3 linked regions of the Homo sapiens genome follow. The protein of the gene in region 1 interacts with the protein of each later gene in a pairwise test. Each region holds a gene or a part of one and is shown on either strand. Other genes may lie near its edges.

Evidence for each region. The genes of interacting proteins can lie anywhere in the genome.
Region 2: the proteins of TRAF3IP1 (region 1) and SMC2 interact in a two-hybrid assay, tested with the Homo sapiens proteins (2 studies listed by BioGRID and IntAct).
Region 3: the proteins of TRAF3IP1 (region 1) and GOLGA4 interact in a two-hybrid assay, tested with the Homo sapiens proteins (2 studies listed by BioGRID and IntAct).

What each region holds. Positions count from the first base shown.
Region 1 is NC_000002.12:238,315,774-238,324,000, forward strand, and holds the start of TRAF3IP1 (TRAF3-interacting protein 1), read left to right. Parts: upstream 1-4,744; 5' UTR 4,745-4,889; coding exon 4,890-5,012; intron 5,013-8,227.
Region 2 is NC_000009.12:104,124,611-104,132,752, reverse strand, and holds part of SMC2 (structural maintenance of chromosomes protein 2), read right to left. Parts: intron 7,842-8,142; coding exon 7,648-7,841; intron 6,113-7,647; coding exon 5,969-6,112; intron 5,468-5,968; coding exon 5,273-5,467; intron 3,109-5,272; coding exon 2,908-3,108; intron 745-2,907; coding exon 628-744; intron 1-627. UniProt on the Homo sapiens protein: Central component of the condensin complex, a complex required for conversion of interphase chromatin into mitotic-like condense chromosomes.
Region 3 is NC_000003.12:37,245,573-37,253,714, reverse strand, and holds part of GOLGA4 (golgin subfamily A member 4), read right to left. Parts: intron 4,018-8,142; exon of another isoform or gene 3,973-4,017; intron 2,321-3,972; coding exon 2,231-2,320; intron 1-2,230. UniProt on the Homo sapiens protein: Involved in vesicular trafficking at the Golgi apparatus level. May play a role in delivery of transport vesicles containing GPI-linked proteins from the trans-Golgi network through its interaction with MACF1. Involved in endosome-to-Golgi trafficking.

The DNA of each region.
Region 1 (8,227 bases):
TCACTGGGTGGGGGATGTTGGCAAATGACAGGGCAGTATGGAAACTATTTATTTTTCTTTATGGGGTTTGATGAACTGTTTAATTAATGCTTGTTCTTGGGAAGGAGGTACGTGTGTGATAAGGACACGTGTGGACAATCAGGAGAAGAATGGGAATTTGGGAGCCCTAGAAGGAGCGTGATTCAGTGATTCAGTGTCCACCGTCATCCTGGACTGTTCCAAGGGACTGCAGTGCCAAATGTCACAGTGGACTGTCCTGCAGAGGTCCTTGGGATGGTGTGAGTCTGGACTGGAGACCATATACTCTGGGAAGTGTAGTGCTGAGAGAAAGGGGATGGATGGAAGATCACAAAAGCTTCTGTGGGTTGGGAGTGGAGTTTCCAGAGTCAGGAAGATTTCATGAGGCAGGAGTCAGAGGCTGGTGGTGCTCTGGCCAAGGAGTAGGGTTATAAACGGAGAGCAGCCAAGATGGAATCCCTCTGAGGGTGCAACTCTTTGGGGGCTTGTTTTCCCCACGGAGCATGGGATGGTTCTATATGGTGAGTGTCGTTAAATTCCCTCTATCATGGGCTGTCTCTCTCTTAGGTGTCTCCCAGCCTCTCGGCCGAGTCTCACACAGCCAGCCCACCTGCAAGGTGCAGTGTAGGAGGAAGCAAGGCCAACAGTTAGAAGGAGATGAGCCCTGGCCCCTTTCATCTGGCCTCTGTCTAGGTGACCAAAGCTCACTTGGTCCTGGATATAGTTAGCAGCATGAGGAGTGATGTTCCTAGGACCAGTGGACAGCATGGACGCTGCCTTCTAGAAGGTCTTAACTCCCCATTAAATCCCCAGCACTCAGACAGTAATCCATACATAGCAGTGATTCAGTAAATGCTTGAATGATACTTGATGTGGTATCTTCACTAGAGATATATGAATATTTAGCAAGGGCAGGGAAATATGCTCAAAATCACTAATCACTACAGAAATGTAAATAGGAACCATAACAAGACACCATTCCACACCCGTAGAAAGATGAACGTTAAAAAAGACTGACAGGGGCCGGGTGCGGTGGCTCACGCCTGTAATCCCAGCACTTTGGGAGGCTGAGGTGGGTAGATCTTGAGGTCAGGAGATTGAGACCATCCTGGCCGACATGGTGAAACCCTGTCTCTACTAAAAAATACAAAAAATATCTGGGCGTGGTGGCAGGCACCTGTAGTCCCAGCTACTCAGGAGGCTGAGGCAGGAGAATGGCATGAACACGGGAGGCGGAGCTTGCAGTGAGCCAAGACAGTGCCACTGCACTCCAGCCTGGGCGACAGAGCAAGACTCTGTCTGCGGGGTGGCGGGGGGGTGCAGGTGGGAAGACTGACAGGCTGGGCACAGTGGCTCACACCTGTAATCCCAGCACTTTGGGAGGCCAAGGCGGGCAGATCACCTGAGGTCAGGAGTTCGAGACCAGTCTGGCCAACATGGTGAAACCCCATCTCTACTGACAATACAAAAATTAGCTGGGTATGGTGGCGGGTGCCTGTAATCCCAGTTACTCAGGAGACTGAAGCAGGAGAATCACTTGAACCCAGGAAACAGAGGTTGCAGTAAGCTGAGAGCATGCCATTGCACTCCAGCCTGGGCAACAGAGCAACACTCCATCTCAAAAAAAAAAAAAAAAAAAAAAAACCCAAAAACAAAAAGAAGAAGAAAAACAAAAAGACTGACAATACCAGATGTTGGCAGGGATATGGAGTAACTTGGGATTCAATATATTGCTGGTGGGAATGAATGATGATGCAGCCACTTTAAAAACAGCATGGTAGTATTTGTAGAGTTAAACATATTCTTACCATACAACCCAACAATTCCAATACAAGAGAAATGAAAACTTTCACAAAGACTTGTAAGTGAATGGTTATAGCAGCATTTTTTTTTTTTTTGAGACAGAGTCTCACTCTGTCACCCAAGCTGGAGTTCAGTAACACGATCTCAGCTCACTGCAACCTCCGCCTCCCAGATTCAAACATTTCTTGTGCCTCAGCCTCCTGAGTAGCTGGAATTACAGATGCACCCCACCACGACTGGCTAATTTTTGTATTTTTAGTAGAGACAGGGTTTCACCACATTGGCCAGGCTGGTGCTGAATCCCTGACCTCAAGTGATCTGCCCACCTTAGCCTCCTGAAGTGCTGGGATTACAGGTGTGAGCCACCATGCCTGGCCAGCAGCATTATTCATAAAAAATAAAAAACTGAAAGCAACCCAAATGTCCATCAACTGATGAATAAACAAATTACACTATGAAATACCATTCAGCCACAAAAAGGAATGGCATATTAATATACGTGTAACAATATGAATGAATCTCAAAAATATAAGAGAAATAATGAAATACAAAAGACTGTGTACTGCATGATTCCATTTATATGAAACTCTAGAAGAGGCAAAATTATAATGACAGAAACCAGATTAGTGGCTGCCTGGGGCTGGGGTGGGGAAGGAGATGGGCTGCAAATAAGCAGCAAGAAATGTTTTAGGGTGCAGGGACTGTTCTGTATTCTGATTGTGGTGGTGGTAACATAATTGTATATAATTACCAAAATGTATCAACCTGCACACTTAAAATGTGTGAATTTTATTGTATGTAAATAATAAAATATAAATTTTAAGTAGAAGAGACCCCCACATCTAGATATACCATGTGCAAACTTCTGGCAAACCAATAATAAAAATAAAATCTTGAAGGCAGCCAGAAACAATAGACAGAAGAACAAAGAATTACGGAAGACTTTTATTCAGAAACTACGCAAGCCAGAAGTCAATGGAGTAACATCCTTAAAGTACTGAAAAACAAAAACAGTCAGTCTAGAATGCTACACTTTTCTTTTTGTTTGTTTTTGTTTTTTAAAGACAGAGTCTTGCTCTGTTGCCCAGGCAGGAGTGCAGTGGTGCCATCTTGGCTCACTGCAAGCTCCAACCCCCGGGTTCAAGCGATTCTTGTGCCTCAGCCTTCCAAGTAGCTGGGGTTACAGGCACACACCACTACGCCCAGCTAATTTTTATATTTTTAGTAGAGACAGGCTTTCACCATTTTGGCCAGGCTGGTCTCAAACTCCTGACCTTAAGTGATCTGCCTGCCTCAGGCTCCCAAAGTGCTGGGATTACAGGCGTGAGCCACTGTACCCCTAGAATTCTTTTTTTTTTTTTTTGAGACGGAGTCTCACTCTGTCACCCAGGCTGGATTGCAGTGGCATGACCTCGGCTCACTGCAAGCTCTGTCTCCTGGGTTCAGGTGATTCTCTTGCCTCAGCCTTCCTGGTAGCTGGGATTACAGGCGCCCGCCTCTGCACCCAGCTAATATTTTGTATTTTAAGTAGAGACGGGGTTTCACCATGTTGGTCAGGCTGGTCTCGAACTCCTGACCTCCCAACTCTAGAATTCTATACTTCTATGCTTAATAAATATTTGTGGCTGAATTTACTGGAGGTGGTTATAGGGGGACATGGAAGGAAAACTATAAAAATGCAATTTAGTATTTGTTGATAAACCATACAGCCTGACTGGCATTGAAATTGGTTGTCTGTATAACTTTTCCATTACCAACTGAACTGTGCTAGAAGAAATATTAAAGGAAGTTCTTCAGACAGGAGGGGTATGACACCAGATGGCGATTTAGATCTCCACAAAAAATGAGGAGGCCTGAAAATGGTAAAAATGAAGGTCAATTTAAAAGTTATAATGGGGGCGGTCGCGCACACCTGTAATACCAGCACTTTGGGAGGCCGATGCGGACGGATTGCCTGAAGTCAGGAGTTCCAGACCTGCCTGGCCAACATGGTGAAACCCCGTCTCTACTAATAATGCAAAAGCGAGGCTGGTGTGGTGTCGGGAGCCTGAAGTCGCAGCTACTCATGAGGCTGAGGCAGGAGAATCACTTGAACCTGGGAGGTGGAGGTTGCAGTGAGCCAAGATCGTGCCACTGCACTCCAGCCTGGGCGACAGAGTCAGACTTCGTCTCAAAAAAAAAAAAAGGTTATAATGGTGTTCTCATTAGAAGAACTACAGACCCCAGAGCTCTCAAATCGCCGGAAGGATTTCTGCGGTAGGCCTGTGCATGATGGACAGAGGACAGGTGGTAAAGAATCACGGACACCTAGTAGGACAACTAGGCATGGCTTTGTCCCGGTTTCAGAGCACCGACACAGCATTTAGTCACCATTTACCTTCTTGGGAGGTGGGTTAGGCAGCGGGCACACTAGTCCTGCTTTGTGGGAGCAGAAGTGAAGTCTCAGAGAAAACAGGTGACTTGCCCAAGAAGCCTTATTAATTACCAGCCAGGACAGCGTATTTTCTATTCCGTGTGTTTTGGGATAACTTAGTGCCGTCCCCTCCGATGAACCAGTGCCTTCGAAAGCCCTTGAGATTTGGGAAACAGGCGGCACAGATCTTGGAGGTTACCTTGTTCTTAATCAGTCCTCAGGCAGTCGCCTCTAACGCGAGCGAACACCGGCTTCCCGAGGCCGTCGCTCGGCAGAGGAGGGGCCAGGCGCCCGATCCCAGATCCCCTTTCCCCGCCCCGCCGCGCCCCGCCTGCTCTGGCACAGCCGCACTCCCGCAAATCCCTCCCGCGGAACCCCCACTCCTGCCTGCGCGGGCGCTGGAAGGCGGGCAGGGGGCGGGGCGCCGCGGCGCGTCCGTTGCTAAGGCCGCGCAGCCCTAGTGACCGAACGCCCTGCGGCGGCCGCGCAGGCGCTGTGGTGGGCTCCGGTGCACTGTGGGATGGAAACCGGAGCGGCGCGTCCTGGCAGGACCGGGCGGCGGCGGCGGCGGGGCCGGCGGCGGCCAGGGACCCGGGCTTAGGCTCGGCCAGGCCGGCTGAGGGGCGCGGGCGGCCAGCGGGCGGCGGACGCCGTCATGAACGCGGCGGTGGTGAGGCGGACGCAGGAGGCGCTGGGGAAAGTGATTCGGAGGCCGCCGCTGACCGAGAAGCTGCTGAGCAAGCCCCCGTTCCGCTACCTGCACGACATCATCACGGAGGTGGGCGCCGGGGACCGGGCCCGGCCAGGTGCGGGTCGGGATTCCGGTGGGCGCCGAGGTCAGGGCCCGGGCCGGGTGGCGCCGGGTGCGAGCCGGGCTCGGGCTCAGGTGCGGGTCGGGGGCCGGGGCTGGGCCGGAGTCGGGGCCCGGGCCGGGTGTGAACCGGGTGTGGGCCGGGCTCGGGGTGCAGGTCGGGGACCTGTTCAGGGCCGGGTGTGGGCCGGGCACAGGGTGCGGGTCGGGGGCCGGGGTCAGTTCCGGGGTCGGGGCGAGAGTTCTGTGCGGCCCCTGCCTGGGAGCCCGGCCTGTAGGCCCAATTCCGCGGCGCCCTCCGTGAGGAGGTCCTGCCCCTCCCCCGGCTCCGGGCCGCCGCTTACAAGGAGGCTCCGGGCCCTCAGGAGCATTCTTACTTCTTCCCTGCCTGCCCTTGTATTTCCTTAGAGTGCATCTTCCATTATTGCTGGCAGAGCTGCTTCTGTGACTCCTGCCTCGTCTAACCTTGCAGAACCCCTCTCGCTTGCCCTGAAGTATGTAGCACGTGGAAGGCACTCCCTAAATCCTGGGAGAATGGAAATAATATTTTTTATACAACCCTTCTGCCCCAAAGTTTCCCTCCATACCACATTTTGGGTGCTTAATAAATGCCTGCGGGTGGATTTAGTGGAGGCGGCTGTAGGGGGACTTGGCAGGAAAGACTGTAACAGAGCTGCACAGCCTGCCCTACGTTGAGATTGGTGGTCTCTGTAGCTTTTTCCACTTGCGGATGGTGTGCTCCTCCGTGACGGAGACCCTGGCTTGCTTATTAGCATGGCTCTGGTGATCTGCACTGGGTAAGGTACATAGAAATTGCACAACAAACATCCCCTGTTGAGTGGGACCTGTCAAGGCTCGTGGTAACTCCCTGGTAACTCTCAGGAGCGTCACTGCAGCGGGCGCAGCACCCATTTCCATGGTGGACCCAAGGGCACGTGGGAACTCAGAGGTGTGTTTTGGGATTTAGGATTCAGGTTGGACTTGCAGACTTCCAGGGCCTCATGACCTCACCTGGTGATGGTCCTCAAGCTCTGTTTCTCACTCTTTTCAACAGGTTGGGTGCCTTATTCTTGCACAGACTTTGCTTTACTGGTTCTGCCCTCCTACCTTAGCTTATAACGTGTGGTCTCCTGGAGCGTGTGCCTCTGTGTTAAAACAGTGCCTAAAAATGCTCTCGAATCCACCCACATCCCAGGGCCTCGCCAGCCCTGGTCATGTCCTCCCAGCTGGTGCAGCACTTACAGCCTGTCCTGGACAGTGTGTGGGGAGAGGACCTGCTGTGTGGATAGCCCGGTGGGAGGGGGACAATGTGCCGCATCACCACCGTCCCGTGAAGTAGGCGGGTACCCGTCCTCTGACCCAGAGGGAACAAGAGCCAGTGTGAGCCCAGCCCACTCTAGCTGTGGCTGCCAAAACCTTTATTCTCCCAGGCCTGTCTGTCCCACTGAAATGCAGAGCCCCAGGAGGGAGGTGCAGGGAGTGTGCCTTATCCTTGTGGGGCAGTGATGGCGCTCAGCTCACGGTGGCTGTCCAGTCACTACCGCATAGTTGGTCAGAGGAATCCTAATGGGAGAGGAGGAGGAACATGGGCTGGGTGCTGTGGCTCACGCCTGTAATCCCAGCACTCTGGGAGGCCAAGGCGGGCAGATCACTTGAGCCCAGATGTTCAAGACCAGCCTGGCCAACATGGTTAAAACTCCATCTCTACTGAAAATACAAAAATTAGCTGAGTGTGGTGGTGCACCTGTAATCCCAGCTACTCAGGAGGCTGAGTAGGGAAGATTGCTTGAGCCGGGAAGGTTGAGGATGCAGTGAGCTGTGATTGTAACACTGCACTCTAGCCTGGGTGACAGAGTAAGACCCTGTCTCAAAAAAAAAAAAAAAAAAAAAAAAAAAGAATTGCCTTCTTGGCCAGGTAGATAGGGTGTGTGGAACGAGTTGCATGTTCCCAATTAGGAACGACTGGTCTGCTCTTCTCCCATAGACTTCCTCATCTAATGCCAAAGTTGATTTCTCTCCCTGTGTAAAGATAAATAAATTATGACCTACTTGATAAAGTTGTTAGAATGACTGACATATTGGAAAGGATTTTCAGATAATAGGTGGAGAGCCTCTTATGAAAATGCTTTACTGTACTGAATATTATACACACATTGCTATATTAGTATTTTAGCTATAGCTACACTAACCACCCCGTTTCATTAAGCTAAGTGTGGATACTGTGACGTTAATGTCTCTTGTCACTTACAGTTATTGTTCACAATTTTTTTTTTTTTTTTAGAGGGATTCTTGCTCTGTCGCCCAGGCTGGAGTGCAGTGACACAGTCTCCACTCACTGCAACTTACGCCTCCCAGGTTCAAGCAATTCTCCTGTTTCAGCCTTCTGAGTAGCTGGGACTGCAGGCACATGCCACCATGTCCAGCTAATTTTTCTATTTTTAGTAGAGATGGGGTTTCGCCATGTTGTCCGGCCTGATCTCGAACTCCTGACCTCAGGTGATCCGCCTGCCTCGGCCTCCCAAAGTGCCGAGATTACAGGTGTGAGCTACTGTACCCAGCCTATTGCTCACAATTTTAACTGCCAGCATCCTGGGAAAACCTCAACAGGGACAAAATGAAAATGTTCCAGGAATGTTAAATGCAGGATGCTCTTAATATTCTACCTGTCATCTCAAGAAAAACAGTAGCATAGCTCTTACATAGTGTGGTGTGGAATGAAAACTCCTAGATTCATTAATACCTAACTTGATGCAAATTAAGGAGTTGTGGCTTGATTCCAGAGGAGGCTCTCATTAGGGTGGGACTGTCTTGTTTTTAAAACATGTCTTCCCGTAATAAATATGCTTTATTAGCTGACCTAGGATATGTGGCTATGAGCATACCTGTCCTTACCACATACCATGCAGCCTGCTGGTAAGGGTCCCAGCTATTCAAAATGCTTGTTGCTACAAATTGTATTGATTTTACAGTAACCTACCACATTTCAAAAAACTGCAGTCTGAGACAACCCAGGACCCTGGCTGGGTGTGGTGGTTGAGAGGAACAGGAAAAATAATTGCCCTAAAAGCTGGTTTTAGGGCTAATTAGGAGGTACAGGTTACCTGAGGGAAGGGATGATTAGGGAGAGAACCAAAGCAGTGAGGTGTGGAGCCTGCCACCATCTTAAGAAGTGAGTAGTGACA
Region 2 (8,142 bases), on another chromosome or scaffold:
GGGAATGGAGCACTGAAAATAAGTCTTAGAGAAGAAAAAAACAAGGTGACTAAAAGGGATAATTGTGCTGCATTACTGAAGATAGAGTTCCTACAGAATTACAAAGAGAAAAAGAGGCAAGGTGCCCCATTAAAACCCAGAAGGCACAGGTTTGCTAAACTACCAAACAGCACAGTAACTCTATGTTTGGAATCTCTGAAGTAAGAATCTTCCGCTATAGTAAAAATGGAAAAACTTCCACATGAGAGGCTAAGGAATTATCCTATAGGAGACAGATACATGAAGTCAGGGAAGTAGAAGTAACAGTAAAGAAGCCTAAGATCTGCCAAAGTTGTCATAAAACAAAATGGAATTGGGATTTTGTTGAATAAGCATCCTGTAAAAGAGAATACTAAACTTGGCTTGTTTACTATCCAATTCTTACAGAAGTACAAGAATGCCAGGATCTGGTAGTAGTCAAGTTCAAAAAGAAAAAAATGCATTTAAAAGTCAGAGGTTTTAATTAAGGTGTGAATATGTGCCTCATTCAAACATAGATCAGCTATTTCAAATTTCTTATAGAGTATAACTCCACTGATGATATTTTTTCATCCTTGCAACCTCATATAAAACAAACATAAAAAGTACCTTTTGCCATGCAATATTTAGGGCTTGGTTTTTCTTCTGGTCAAGGTCTTCTATAGTTGTAAGAATTTTGGATTTGTCATTTTCTACAATTCTCTTCTTCTTCATCAAGTCATTGTACTATGAGATAAAAAACATGGTTAACTGGGAAAATATAAAATCTCTTCTATATTCTGGAATTTGGTCAGAAATAAACAGTTTTCATTATTTTTATATACAATACATACATTGCTATTTACCAAAAAGATATAATGCACTAAGAATTATATATACTCATATACTATACATATACTGTATGATGTGTGTGTATATACACACTCATATACACACTCTTAACAAAATTAGGAATAAAATCATCCATATGTATATAACTAAATTACTAGAACTAAGAATTTATAAGACAAAGTCCTTAAAATATTTTGACTCCACTAATATTCCCTTATCTCCTTAGCAGCCAAGGCAAAAAAAAAAAAAAAAAGTGTTACATATAAACTTAAGTAAAAGGAGCCCTGAAAGCTCTCCTCTTAAGGTCAGCCTTAGCAGTGACATGAACAAAATTTTGATCCTTCACCATGATATATAGGAACCACATAAATTGGACCTTACTTTTTTTTAATTTTAAGTTTTGGGATACATGTGCAGAATGTGCAGGTTTGTTACATAGGTATACATGTGCCATGATGGCTTGCTGCACCAATCAACCAGGTTTTAAGCCCTGTATGCATCAGGATAAAGGGAATTGGACCTTATTTATCCCTTGACTTTATGGCATTAAACTCCTCCCCAGGTTCTGGCCATATGGTCTTTTACAGCTCCTTTGAACATAATAAACTCACTATTGTCTTATGGCCCCTGCACTATTCTCCCTTCCTGGAATGCTCTTTCTCTGACATAACGGTTGCCTGAAATTTCAGCTCAAATATCACCACTTTAGAGTAGTCTTCCTTCAAGCAAGGCTGTAGAGGGATAATCATACCATGAACAGCAATGGGACTTCCTAAAACTCTTCCTAATTCATTTCTCCTCAAAGCCCTACATTTCAAGGAGGCTTCACATTCACCTTTAACAATTCTAGTCAGTCCTGCTGTTTTCCTTGCTGTCCCTCTTCTTTACAGCCACGCTCCCCTAACCTTCTCTCTACATTTTTATCTTATTTTTTCATGAAAATCCATGTAATTGCTTATGTAGATAGATACAAAACACAAGAAAAAAAAAGGCCATCTGCTGATCAACAATATAGGCTTCTCCTCTGGTAAAGAGATGGGAGTTGATAAATTCTTTTGAAAAAAATATTAGACTCAGGTCTCATCTAATAGAAGTAAACGAGTAAAAGTGAACAAGTTTCATGTTATGCAGATCAAATTCAGACCAAAGTTTTCCTTCTACAAATATATCACATATTGCAAAGCTTTAATGTAGAAATGAAAACCAGCAGGAGCATTTTCTAGAGAGATCACAATACCTGCATGATTCATCTGTTTGGTATCTAATATAATATAGACTCTTTGTGCATATTCATGCCAAAAACAGTTAAAAAAAATTATGGTAAAATTTCTTCAAAGTAACTGTGCTATTATCAGTGTCGCAGATTTCTCATGAATTTTACTCTGATTTGCAAATTCAAACAGAATTTTCCAGCATTCAGGAAGGTATGGGGCATTAATAGGGGCATTAATATAAAATTACTAAGATAGCCATTTCTTATGGCTATCTTAAGAGTAGGGAATGCTTCCCCCACTGGGTTTTTCTAGTGATAGGTCCTCCCAAGTTCATCACTAGATGACAGTAAACTCCCTTCCCAGACTCAAAGTTTTGTCAGGTTAGGGAAGAATAACATTATTGAGTAATTGAGAGCATTAAAACTGAGAAGAGGCTGCAGAATTTACAGATCAGTGAAACAGTATTTATGTGTATAATGGCTTTAGTCATTACTTATATAGTTTCAGTATACAGTAGAGTCAAGAGGATGACAGAAGTATATCCTATTCAAGGCTTTTCAATGCAAGTGAAAGAAATGAAATGATAGAAATGTGAGGAATTATGTTTGACAAAGAACAAAAGCCAGTGAAAAAGTCATTCCAGGTGTAATAGAATGTAAAAACAACTAATGATGCATAAGAGTAATAAGAAAAAAATGACGAAAAGAGAAAAAGGAAAGCAGAAAGAAAAGTATCAAGGACATCTGCAAAAGGTTAACTCTAATAATTGCATCAGAGGTCATACAGAGCTGTCAATGCTAGTCATGTTCTAATGCGGCCAGATATTCATAAGAAATTGACTTACTCGCTCTTCAGCTTCTGTCAATACATTCATAGCTCTCATATTGACATTTCTTCCTAGTTTCTCCTTCATTTCTTGCAACTTCTGAAGTCTCTGACCAGCTTCTTTAGGGTTGTTAGTTTTGAAATCATAGGCACTATTGGGTTGGCCAAAGAGGTGTCTCTCTGCATTAATCCAGTCATAATCTTTCAACATTTTGGATACCTAGCCACATATAAAAATAGATGGGAGATCTATGAATGTTTACAAACCAATATGTATAAGCCAGTTTCTTAACTATTTAATACTTTTGAATCAAATACTGAAGAGGAAAAAACCTTCAATGACTAATTTTTTTTTTTTTTTTGAGATGGAGTTTCACTCTTGTTGCCCAAGCTGGAGTGCAATGGCGCGATCTTGGCTGACCGCAACTTACACCTCCCAGGTTCAAGTGATTCTGCTGCCTCAGCCTCCTGAGTAACTGGGATCACAGGTATGTACCACCACGCCCAGCTAATTTTGTATTTTTAGTAGAGACGGGGTTTCTCCATGTTGGTCAGGCTGATCTGGAACTCCCGACCTCAGGTGATCTGCCAACCTCGGCCTCCCAAAGTGCTGGGATTACAGGCGTGAGCCACCGTGCCTAGGCGACTCATTTTTAAAAATGAGTTTCATTACTGACAAGAATAAAGATGAATATTTTTACCTGGAACACAGACTACAGAAACAAGACACTGTATAGCAAAAGATCTTCCTATTACTTTGGCATTAGAAGAGCCAACTCACAGAGAAATTTTTACGAAGTATACGCAAAGCACCTCCATTAGAATGAAATGTAAGTCAGGTAGAACTCCTTCAGAATTTACCAAATTCAATCTATTGCTTCAAAACACAACTTATGAGAAGCTAAAACTCTTTTAATACTTAAGTCATAGATTTGGTAAAAATCATGGAAGCCTAATGCTGACTGAGACCTAATAATTTTTCTCTCAGAAATATATTCTAAGAAACTGCCCTAAACATTGACTCTATCCTGCTCCCCACCTTTTGAAAAAGGCACAGTATATTGAAAAAGGCACTGTATAATAATTTTTCATGTAATACAACTGATTATACAGTTCAAATTATAGTGCCTAAAGAAGACTTTCTTCTACTAGAATTATGATTCATTCTCACTGGCAGAATCCAATCCTTGTTAATTTATTGACTTGTATTAATTCCATGGATATGGTCTCACCTGTAGGCCCCAAAGTACAATTATCATTTCTAGTGTATCTTCCTTTTGACCTGTAAACTCTTTGAAAGCATCCTGTATGTGTTGCTCATCCTTACATTGTCAGTGCCTGGCACAGTATCTGATACTGGTAGGTATGTATAAATCTTTGATTGACTTCTTAGCAGACCCACTTGCAAGTCCCTCCTTTTACTCTTGTAAATAAAATCTCCTAGCAATCGCCAGTACTAGCATTTTCAATTACCAAAAAACTATTAGCAGTAACATTGCCATTGGTAGTATTTCAGTCAGTCCACTATCACTAAGCTAATGGGAAATCAATAGTAATAAAGTGGTAGATTATAATGTAGCCATGAAAAATGTTGTTTAAATCAAGTTCCACAGTTCTTTCAGAAGAGAGGGAGATTGTTTTGTATGTTCTTGATCTTTCTGAAGTTAAAGTTCATGTATTTTTAGGATGCTAAAAAAAAATATCCTGGACATTAAAAAGGTGCCAAACTGTTACACACTCATAAGAAAACATGCTAGATGAATTATTAATACCATGTGAATGCAGCTTCTTAACCAAGCAATGAATTTCTGCAAAAGCACGTGTTATCTTTAAAGCACTGAAGTAAAGGTGCTGTGACACATGAAAGAAAGAAACTGGGATAACCTCAAAAACATAGCTGCTTGGCAAAACATCAGATTTTTTATAAAGTTGCAAATACTGACAGCAGTAACACTCATAAAGACATGTGGAAGCCAATTCAGTCCTTTTTTTAGATTACCTGTATATATAGTTCTGTGAGTTTTTTAATTCAATTTGAAATAAGGTAGAGAATATATATCATTATTACTAGCACATCAGTAATTAGTTCTATCAACATTTGGAGGTGAAAAGTTATTTCCATGGGAGACCACTAAACATTTGGTAAATACATCCTGTAGATGGGAAAAAATATCTAAAGTTAAATCTAAAAATAAAACATTTGTGCAATTTGTTGAAAATTAGCATTGTTGAAAAGCAGTTAAAGCTGCAAGCTCAAATTTATGCCAGGCTGTAATTTTGCCATTTATATTTATAGAGTTCTCTATCAAGCAGTTTTCTAAATTTTTTCAAGAGCTCAGTAACAAAAATTTGATTTAGTATAAAAAATGCACACAAACGTATACCTTTGCAGCACCATCTTCAGCCTCCCGTTTATGTTTGCTGATGTTGTGGTCTAATTCCTTAATTTTAAGCTGAGAATCATTGTTTTGCTCCTTGTGTTTTGCCACTTCTGCATATTTAGCTTTAATTACAGTGTCTTGGGCTGTTATCACCTCTTTTTGCTTGGTCACCTCTTCTTGAGCTTTATTTACTGACTCCTAAAACAAAAAAATTAAAGAAAATATGTGGTGAGGTAACATGTAAATAATTTTAATTTACTAAACAATTATCTGACAGATCCCTGGGCAAGAGGGCAATGTGATTACAGGCAGAGAGATGATCACCTAACCCTCTATATTTTATATCACCATTAAAAGGACTAATCAATTTATACACAGAAGAAAACTTGGATCATCCCTGGTAAAAGGGGTGGGAGGTACAATGCTCATGCTGCACGCTCATGCTGCAAATGAGAGCGTTTTTTGTTAGATGTAATGTAGATGGAATCAACTAAGTGAGGAAGAAGAGGGACTGCTAGAAGCTGACTGACCTATGTGATCCCAAAACTGGCAATTCTGGATGAGTAAAAGCTATTTGTGCCTCATTCTCTCATGATGACGAGTGAAAAGACTGAGAACACTAAAGTCAAACATCTTAAGCTAATGTTTCATAAAAAGATTCGCATTTTCAATTTCTCGAATTTGATAAATAAATCCTACCTTATTTTTAGCCACCTCAGCTGCCATTACTTCAATCTGACTTTCATAGGATTTGATAGCTTCATTTACAGCTTCAAGCTGTTGTTTGTAAGATGTATGCTCTCTCTTGAGCTCTTCCAGTTCCAGAGTGATAGCTTCAACTTCCTATAAAAAATACAGTATTCAGGTATTCATATAGGTTATTAACTACTGAAAAACAAATATGTACAGAACAATTAAATAAATAATAATCTCATGCAAGTAAGACCCACAGCTTTGTTACCACTCAGCTACCGAAAGTACAGGTTAAGCTGCTTCCCCAGAAAAGGAAGTTTATTTTCCTATATCAAAAAAAAAAGTATGTGTAATTTTTATAGGTTCAAAGAACTCTGCATAAATTATTTTCTTTATCCTTTATTCCTATAGGGAAAATAATATAACATTCTACGTAACAGATGAATTACTGGAAGTAAAGCTTTTTTAAAAACAAAATTGTTCAATGTGTAAAAAGTTTCTCAATATTCTTCTTTCCCACTATAGCCTTCAGTTCATTAGAAGAGCAGTCCCCAACCTTTTTGGCACCGAGGACCAGATTTGTGGAAGATGATTTTTCCATATGGCGGGCACAGGGAGAGAGTATGGTTTCAGGATAAAACCACCCCATCTCAGATCATCACGCATTAGATTCTCATAAGGAATATGCAACCTAGATCCCTTGCATGCACAGTTCAGAAAAGGGTCTGCACTCCTCTGAGAATCTAATGCCACAGCTGATCTGACACAAGGTGGAACTCAGGCAGTAATCCTCATTTGCCTGTCACACACCTCCTCTGTTACTGGTCTGTGGCCTGGGGGGTTGGGGACCCCTGCATTAGAAAATACTTTTTACAGCTATTTAATGACAAGAATCTTAGAGTGGGCTAAAAAAAAATGCGAGGGAAATATATTTAGGTGAAATCGCATAAAAGTGATTAACAACGTAGCCTTTGGAGACAAAAACCTAGGTTCAGATTCCAGCTTTGGCATTAGCTAAAAGATATAACAAAGTATCATCAGTTTACAACTGAATGACACCTTGTAAATATAACATGCTTTGTCTTCCATTATGCTCTCACAGTGCACATTCATTTAGGTGCTTATCAAATAAAAATGTCAACTTGCTGAATCTCTGATATGACATCCAGAATATCAAATAATCCACTCCTGAAGAAAGGCCATCCACTCTTGAAGGAAGCATTTACCAACCGTCAACTTTGCCCTTTCCTTAAAATTAGCATCCCCTACTCACAACTATGAAACACTCGATTGCAGGGTTTTCAGAGAAAAATACAGATTAAATATCCCTTATCCAAAGTGTGTAGGACCAGAAGTCTTCCAGACTTCAGATTTTTTTTTTGGATTTTGGAATATTTGCATTATACAGAGTAACTGAGTATCCCAAATCCAATCTGCTCCAATGAACATTTCCTTTGAGCCTCAGATCAACACTCAAAAAGTTTCTAATTTGTATTTTGGATTTGAGATGCTCATCCTGGATACTCCTTTGACTTGTAAGAAGCATAATTTGTTTCCAAAGAACACTGCTCCCTTTTAGATTCTGAGATCAATTCTGATGAATAAGGTCAACCAATGATGCTCTACCACCTTCAGCTCTATGTTGACTTTAAAAGGTTGGTTCAATTTCAAAAAGAAGTTATTACCTGTTGTTTTTCTTTCATCTTCTTGCTAGATGCATCTGCCTTTGTTTTGGCACAATCCAGTTTTTTCTGAGCATCTTTCAGTTCTCGCTCTCTTTCAGCTTCTGCATTTTTCATTTTATTTTCCAATACTTCATATTTTTCTTCTGCTTTTCTTTGGATTTCTTTAGTGTTTTTCAAAGTCTCCTCACTTTCCTCTGCATCACAAAGTAAGCAAATGTGGCTAAGTTAACAATGGTAAAGGTTGACAAATTCAACTTTTAATAGAAGAAATGGTTTGGAAAATTACAGGGTACAATTTAAGAAAATTAACTATCCCAATGATATTCTAGAAATGGTATAATGAAACACAGATCCTACCCAAAAGCCATACTTGAATTATCTAAAGATCTGTAACAAAATAATTTCTTTTGCTATGAAATTGAACTTTACCTACAACTATCCTTTTACAAAGGTATTGAAGCAACCTATTAAAAAAAAAAAAATCACAGATCATAT
Region 3 (8,142 bases), on another chromosome or scaffold:
ACTTTTTAAAAATCTAGGATGCTTTAAAATAATTTAATTGAATATACCTTTACAAAATAATTATTTCTGAAAGATTTGGTTTTAGCACTCTTTTACAATCGACCAAGTCAGCTAAAGTTTATTTATTTCTTTCTAAATTTTAATATTAACAATCCTAGCTAAGAGATGGTTTCGGATAGAATGACAAAGCATTGTCATCACTTCATCTCCTTGCTTTTTAAGCTTTTTTGACAACTTTAACAGGTACTTTGACCACAGAGTGCAATCTAAACCTTACTTCAACTTATTTTATAATAAATAAAGGATTTTTCAATTATATAATTAAGTTTTTGGTTAAAAGGACATTAAATTAATTTTTTCATCATTTCCCTGTACCCTATGCGGTTTCTCATTTTGTTAAACTTCTAAGATAGAAGGTACTGTCAGGGATGGGAAATGGATGGGAACCAGGCTTTTTTTTTTTTTTGAAAGACAGGGTCTTACTGTGTCACCTAGGCTGGTGCAATCATGGTTCACTGCAGCTTCGACCTCCGAGGCTCAAGTAATGCCCCTGCCTTAGCCTCCTGAGTAGCTGGGACCACACAGGTGCATGCCACCATACCTAGCTAATTTTATTTTATTTTATTTTTGCAGAAACAGGGTCTCACTCTGTTGCCCAGGCTGGTCTCAAACTCCTGGACTCAAGCAATCCTCCTGCCTTGGCCTTCCAAAGCGCTGGGATTACAGGCATGAGCCACCATACTTGGCCTAAAACTAAGAACTTCTGTTCATCAAAGGACATCATTAAAATGAATGGCAAGCCACTGAGTGGAAGATAGCTGCAAGATATATATTCAACAAAAAACTCCTTAGTATTCTATATTTTTTAAAAAACTCCTACAAATCAGTTTTAAAAAAAGATAATCCAATAGAAAATGGGCAAGGGACTTAAGCACTCACAAAAGACATCAAATGGGCAATAAACAGATGTAAATGCTCAATCTCGTTAGTTATCAGAGAATGTAAATTAAAACCAAAATGAAAGACCACCACCAGAACAGCTGAAATGAAAAAGACTGTTTTCCAGCATATTTACACAGAGTAGAAAAATAAAGACTCTCAAAAATATAGGGCAAAAGCAACTTTCATAAGCTCCTGGTGAGAATTTAAATTTCTACAACCACTCTGGAAAACCATCAGCATTATCTTCTTATGTGTTAAAATGGAGCAGTGATTCTACTCCAAAGTACATACCAACAGAAATGCAGGTACATGTACACCAAAAAAAAGTACAATAATGTTGATGGCAACATAATTCATAGTAGCCAAAACCTGTAGACAACCCAAATGTTTAACTACAATGTTTACATTTAGAAAGCATATTTAAGAGGTAAAACTATTAAAAAAAAAAAAAAAAAGGAAGCAAGCAAATACCAAAAATTCAGGATGGTGGTAATCCTTCAGGGGGAAAGGGAGCACGACAGTGCTAACAGTGTTCCTTTGCTTGACCTGGGAGGATTCACTTCATGATAATTTGCTGACCCGTGCATTTATGTTTTACCTTCTTTTTGTATGTGTGTTACACTTCACAGAAAAAAAGTGGGAAATAATGAGTTTTAATGCCAGCTGCTGGTTACATGGAATAAGTTAAATAAGTTACTTCTCAGTTTCCACTCACCAGCTTGAAAAAATGATGCTATGTTGAACAAATTTATCAAATTATTCTGAAAACTTCAACTATTAAATCCAGAACATATTATCCTCTCAAATTAAGGTTCTCAACAACCATACTTTATAAAGCATAATTGGGAGAATCACTTGAGCCCAGGAGTTCAAGACCAGCCTGAGCAACATAGTGGGACCCCGTCTACGAAAAATTTAAACGTTAGCCAGGCAGGTGGCGTGCGCCTATAGTCCCAGCTACTCAGGAGGCTGAAGTTAGAGGATCACTTGAATCCAGAAGGTCAAGGCTGCAATGTGCAGTGATCGTGCCACCACACTCTAGCCTGGGTGACAGAACCAGACCCTGTCTCAAAAACATACATACATACATACAGACAGACAGACAGACATAAATCATAACTGCTATTTGTGAAAAAAAAAAAAAAAAGACCAATTGTGTTACTAATAAAAACTCTACCTAGGAATTAAATAGCTGACCTGTCAAAAGTTTCCCATTTTGTTATCAACAGCATACATTTTAGATTAGTTTCTTTTGAGAGGTATACTAGAAAAGGAATTCCAAACTTACCTCTCTATTGGGTGTACCTTCATCAAGTTGCTCTGTAAATGAAGATGTCCTGCTCCTCATTCTTGTTGGTGTTGAAGAATTGGAGGACGCCTAGATTTAAAAATTATTGCACAAATTAGCAAGACTATATTGACTAGTGAACTATGAACTAGGTAGTCCTTCTCTCAGTCCATGCCCAAAGAATTCAGTGAAAGAAAGGAAAAGAGCAAAAACACGAAAAGCAGAAAAGGATAACAAATATAATCAACTAGAAAACCCAGGCTACCTACTAGGTCCCTGGCCTAACTCTGCCACCAACTAGAACTATGATCTTAGCTACATGAACTTTTTGAGGACTATGTGTCTCCATATATAAAATAAAGTTGCGATACTAGTGTAAGATGATAATATTAGAGAAAACTGAAGCCAGGTGAGGGGTATATAAAAACTCTCTGCACTATCTTTAGAACTTTTCTATAAACCAAAATTATTCCAAAATTAGAAGTTCATTTAAAAAAAAAAGGCTGGCAATTCAATCTTTAAGATCCCTTCTACCTTCTAGCTCTAACATTCAATAGTATGAAATGCACAGATAAACAGCACTTGCCCACCTAATTAATGGCCTTGCTTTGAGCCTACCTTGAATACCACTGCTAAATACTGAGATGCTATTCCATTTAGCTCTGTAATTGACAGCCTGACTCCTATAACCCTCAGCGCAAAAAAACTCAGGAGAAAGGGCTCAAAATTTAAACTAGAGGTCTGGGGTCTACTCTAAGGTGAGCTAAAAACAACCCTAAAAGTATAAAACCAAAATTTTGAAATCCCCCTACACCCACAGCAAAATAGATCTGAACTCAGATCTATTTTGAGAAATGAATGAGTCATGATATCTTACCTCTTTTTGTAGTCTGCACTTTACAAAAGGCAGTTAATAAATATTTGTCAAATAAATGAATGAATGAATAAACAAATGGAACTCTGGTCTGTGGTATCCGTGCACAAACTGCTGTGGTTAGGGTGGAACTGAGAGGTCGTGAGGAATAGTATACAAATATACACATACTCTATATACACATATATACATCCAGACAGACATATACATATTTAGCTTATGATAAAAGTAACATTTTGCATCAGGATAGACATTCAATAAATGTTGGGACAACTGGCCATCCATATGGGGCAAGACACACAAATCAGATCCTTCATACTTAAGCTATATTAAAGATTTAATTTTTTTTATTGAAATACAAAAAATTCAAGAGTCTATTTCTACAATCTCTGAATGGGAAAGAGATTTTTATGTGAAAAACAAATCAAAGCAGCAGTTTAATTGGGAGGTGAGGAAAAGCATCTACAAATATGACAAAAGTTTAATAACCTTTTTTCTATAAACAGCTCTTATAAGTCCGTAAGTTAGAACTCAGAAAACTTACTAACCCAATCTTCTTTTTATCTGAGACAGGGTAACCTGAGCTCCATCAATGAAACACATGAGACTTCGAGTCATAAGTGAGTGATGTGAAAAAACAGACATACAAATAAAGTTCATCATCTGATGACAATGGAGACAGAACTTCATGCATCCACACAAATATAAGCTGTGAAGTGACAGATGCAATGCTGGTGCCAAGCTGAAGCAGCTGCAACACAGAGTAGTCTCCCCAGTATAACTGGACGTAGCAATCAGCTCAGACTTTTGGGACCTCAGGGAAATTCTGTAGGGTAAAGAGTCTTCAATAAATTATTTTTCTGCTTACCTAGATTGACTTTTTGTTGCTTACAACCAAGAACTCCAACACCTTCTAAAAGATGAACCAGAAAAATCAATACAACAGATGAAATTAGCTATGTGCAGAAGTCACCTTAAGGGATGACATATCCTCTCCCACCAAAGACAAAACAGGAAGAATAAGGACTTAAAAACATGAACAAGAGTAGTGTTGTGCGCCTGTAATCCCAGGTACTCAGGAGGCTGAGGCAGGAGAATTGCTTCAACTGCAGAGGTTGCAGTGAGCCAAGATTGCACCACTACACTCCAGCCTGGGTGACAGAGCAAGACTCCGTCTCAAAAAAAAAAGCATATAAACAAGAAAATCAATCAATGTGAAATAAAGTTGAAGCCTTAGCAATGGTTTAAATGTCTAGAAAATATGTGACTAAAAGTCAACATTGTACTTAGAAAATGGCAAGGGAAAGCACAGTCACTGTGTAGTATTAGTCTCAGTCTTGGAATAAGTTTGAGCCTACCTTGAACACCACGTTCAAATTACAAATGTTCAAAGAACATCAGAAATAGCTTTCATTAAAGTTGAGATAAATTCAATAAACCCTTCCCACACCTAGAGCCATAATTTGCAAACCATGCCAGTGCCAGCTTCAAAGGCTGTAGGTGCCTCAAAGGCTGCCACTATGGGGGCAGCCTTTTGTATCTATGTATTTATAAATGATTATATCTAAGAACTCCTTTAATAAAATGGTCACTGGGTGGTAAAAAGTTAGAAAAGTACTACTAGACCACAGGAAATACCTCTTGACTAATCAACTCTCTCTGTTGTGATTCTATCATGTCTAAGAAATCTCTGGGTTATTAATTCAGCTTTCCAAATATCCAGATGCCAGGAAAGGGCTACCTTAGACAGTGACCTTCCAACTGCTTAAAAAGTATACCTCACTGCAAATCTGAAAAATTGGCATTACGTCTTACACCTTGGCCTCATATGGTCTAATCAGTAACTGAGAGCCTCATCAGCTCTGGAGAAACTGACAAAAAAATCAAATAACGGGGTTTACAAAGTTTAACAGATTCTAAAACATACTCTCCCTAGAAAAGTAGTACTATCTGGCAAAACGTGGCCTGATGACTTGTTGATCTTCCTCTGGATCTTCCTCTGGAGTTACAAGAGTAAGAATTATATGAGAAAATGGATGTGAGTATAAAGTATATAACAGTGCATAAAGAACTAACTGTACTTCAGCATTTGTCCCAGGTGCCTGGTTCCTTAATGGGCTATCCTCACTTCAAGATATAAAGGGATTTAGGTTCCTTCAAACCAAACTTGAGCTGATTAATTGCAATAGCCATAAGAAATCTGAGTCAGCTTTCTAAGCTGTTAACCAAAAAACCTGACAGCTACATCCAGACCCACAATTAATATTTTATTGCCCACTGCCTAATTATTAACTGACCACAGTTATACTCAATTTCAGTGTAAGAAAAACCATTTTAGCTGTGCACAGTGGCTCATGCCTGTAATCCCAACACTTTGAGAGGCCAAGGCAAGACGATCACTTGAGGCCAGGAGTTCAAGACTGCCTGAGTAACACAGTAAGACCCTGACTCTACAAAAACTTAAGAAAAACCATTTTAGTCATTGTGATAAGCAAAACTGTAAGATGACCCCAAATGACCCCTGCCCTGTGAATATAATGAGCTATCACTCTCATAATTGTTATATTACAGGGCAAAGGGATTTTAAAGGCATATTTAAGGTTACTAGGTTACTAATCAGTTGACCATGAGTTCATCAAAAGATTACCTGGATGGGTCTAAACTAATTACATAAGCCCTTCAAATATGGGTCTAGAGGGCAGAGGGACGTACTTCTGCTGTCCTGAAAGAAAGCAAAATGCCTACAGGGGCACGTGGCAAGGAGCTGCTGGTAGCCTCTAAGCCGAAAGTGGTCAGCAAGAAATGAAGGCCCCAGTCCTATAACCAGAAAGGACTGAATTCTACCACAACCACATGGGCATACAAAAAGATCCTGAGCTCCAGATGAGAAAGCAGCTTGGACAACATATTGATTTTAGCCTTGCAAGACCCTGAGCAGAGAACCCAGTCATGCCATGCCAGACTTCTGACCTACAGAACTATAAAATAATAACTGGGTTATTAGGCACTAAGGTTGTGGTAACTTGTTATGCAATATTAGAAAACTAATCCAGTCATCCTTAGGAATAAGCCTTGAATCCCTTGTCCCTATACCATGACTTTTCATTATCCATCAAGGCTCTACTCAGATGTCACCCTGATCTTCTCCAGAAATGCCTTATTTTGCACAACTACAACACCCTGTATATATCACTATTACACTGAAAGTACTTGTCTCTCAACTCCATTGTGTAGGGACTACATAGACCCTTCAAAGCAAATGCAACATCCAGCAGAGGACCTAGGCATTCACTGTTCATAACTAACATCTGGTTCATTTCACTCTCCCTACAACACCTATGGATTAGTCACAGCAGAGACACAGCCATTGAATCCTCATCACAGCACTGTTGTAAGTCACTGCCAAATCAATTTGACATCCCAGTTCTAAAAGAGCAGTCAAAGTAACTTGGGGTTAATTCTTCAAATAAACCTTTATATTTTAGGTACCAAACTTATTAAAGCCTTTCATCATGTTCTTAATAAACTACCTTCTGATCTAAATGTTTTCTCTGGGACTCATGCTTTCCCCAATTTCAAGACTGAAACTATTTAGTAAACTTGGATTTACAATAAGGCTATGTCCCTTCAGAAAGGACTCTTTTCCCTGTTATCTGTGGAACTGTTTGCTGGTTTTTTTGTTTTTATTTTTTAAATTTATATCACATAAACTATTATTTTGGGGTCTCACTCTAAAAGAGTGAGGTCAGCTGCCATCTCTGAGCTGAGGGAAAAAAATAAGGGATGATTCTGCAGGCATAAGGAGGGGCGTATATGTTGATTTTTTAAAAATATACATAACATAAAATTTACCATTTTAAACATTTGTAGCTGTACAATTCAGTGGCATGAACTACATTCACACTGTTGTGGAATCACCACCATCCATCACCAGTACGTTTTCATCTTTCCAAACTAAAACTCTGTACCCACTACACAGTAACTCCCCATTCTCTCCTCTCTCCAGCCTTTGGCAACAACCATTCTATTTTGTCTCTAAGAATTTGACTACTCTAGGTACCTCAATTAAGTGGAGTCATGTATTCATCCTTTTGTATCTATACTTCTATAATTTTTAAGTTTTAGAAGTACTTGAAAAGGCTAAAAATGTTTTAAAATATTTGTATTCATGTACTACATATATCCCAAGAAATTACAATGTCTGTATTACTTCTTGATGTTTCTTTTATTGACTTAGTTCTTTAAGGAGTTTAAAAATCCAAAATAGGTATTTGTTGTTAAAACATATTTTTTTTTTTTTTTTTGAGACGGAGTCTCGCTCTGTCTCCCAGGCTGGAGTGCAGTGGCACGATCTCAGTTCATTGCAACCTCTGCCTCCCAGGGTCAAGCAATTCTCCTGCCTCAGCCTCTGGAGTAGCCAGGATTACAGGTGTGCGCCACCACGCCCCACTAATTTTTGTATTTTTAGTAGACCTCAGGTGATCCGCCCGCCTTGGCCTCCCAAAGTGCTGGGATTACAGGCATGAGCCACGGTGCCAGGCCAGAAATGGGATTTTGCCATCTTGGCCAGGCTGGTCTTGAACTACTGAGTTCAAGCGATTCAAAGTGCTGGGATTACAGGCGTAAGGCCACCATACCAGGCCACATTTTTTGTTTCTAAGATCACAACAATTCACAAGCAAGGAGAAAAATATATGGCAGGCAGAAAGAAAGGTTACAAAATAATTATCAAAAGTAGACCACGAATGGCCAGGCGCAGTGGCTCACACCTGTAATCCCAGCATTTTGGGAGGCCGGGGCTGGCGGATCACCAGAGGTCCGGAGTTGGAGACCAGCCTGGCCAACATAGTGAATATACATATAATCCAAAAGGATTATTTTAAACCTTTCGTACACAAAGTGATTTTATTTGATCCAGATGCCCTGTCTCACCAGAAGCATTAAGCTATAGAAACAGAGCTCTTATATCTTAGTTTGTGACTAGCTTATTATTACTAAAAACCTCTTTGTTAATGAACAAAAACAATTCATTTTCACG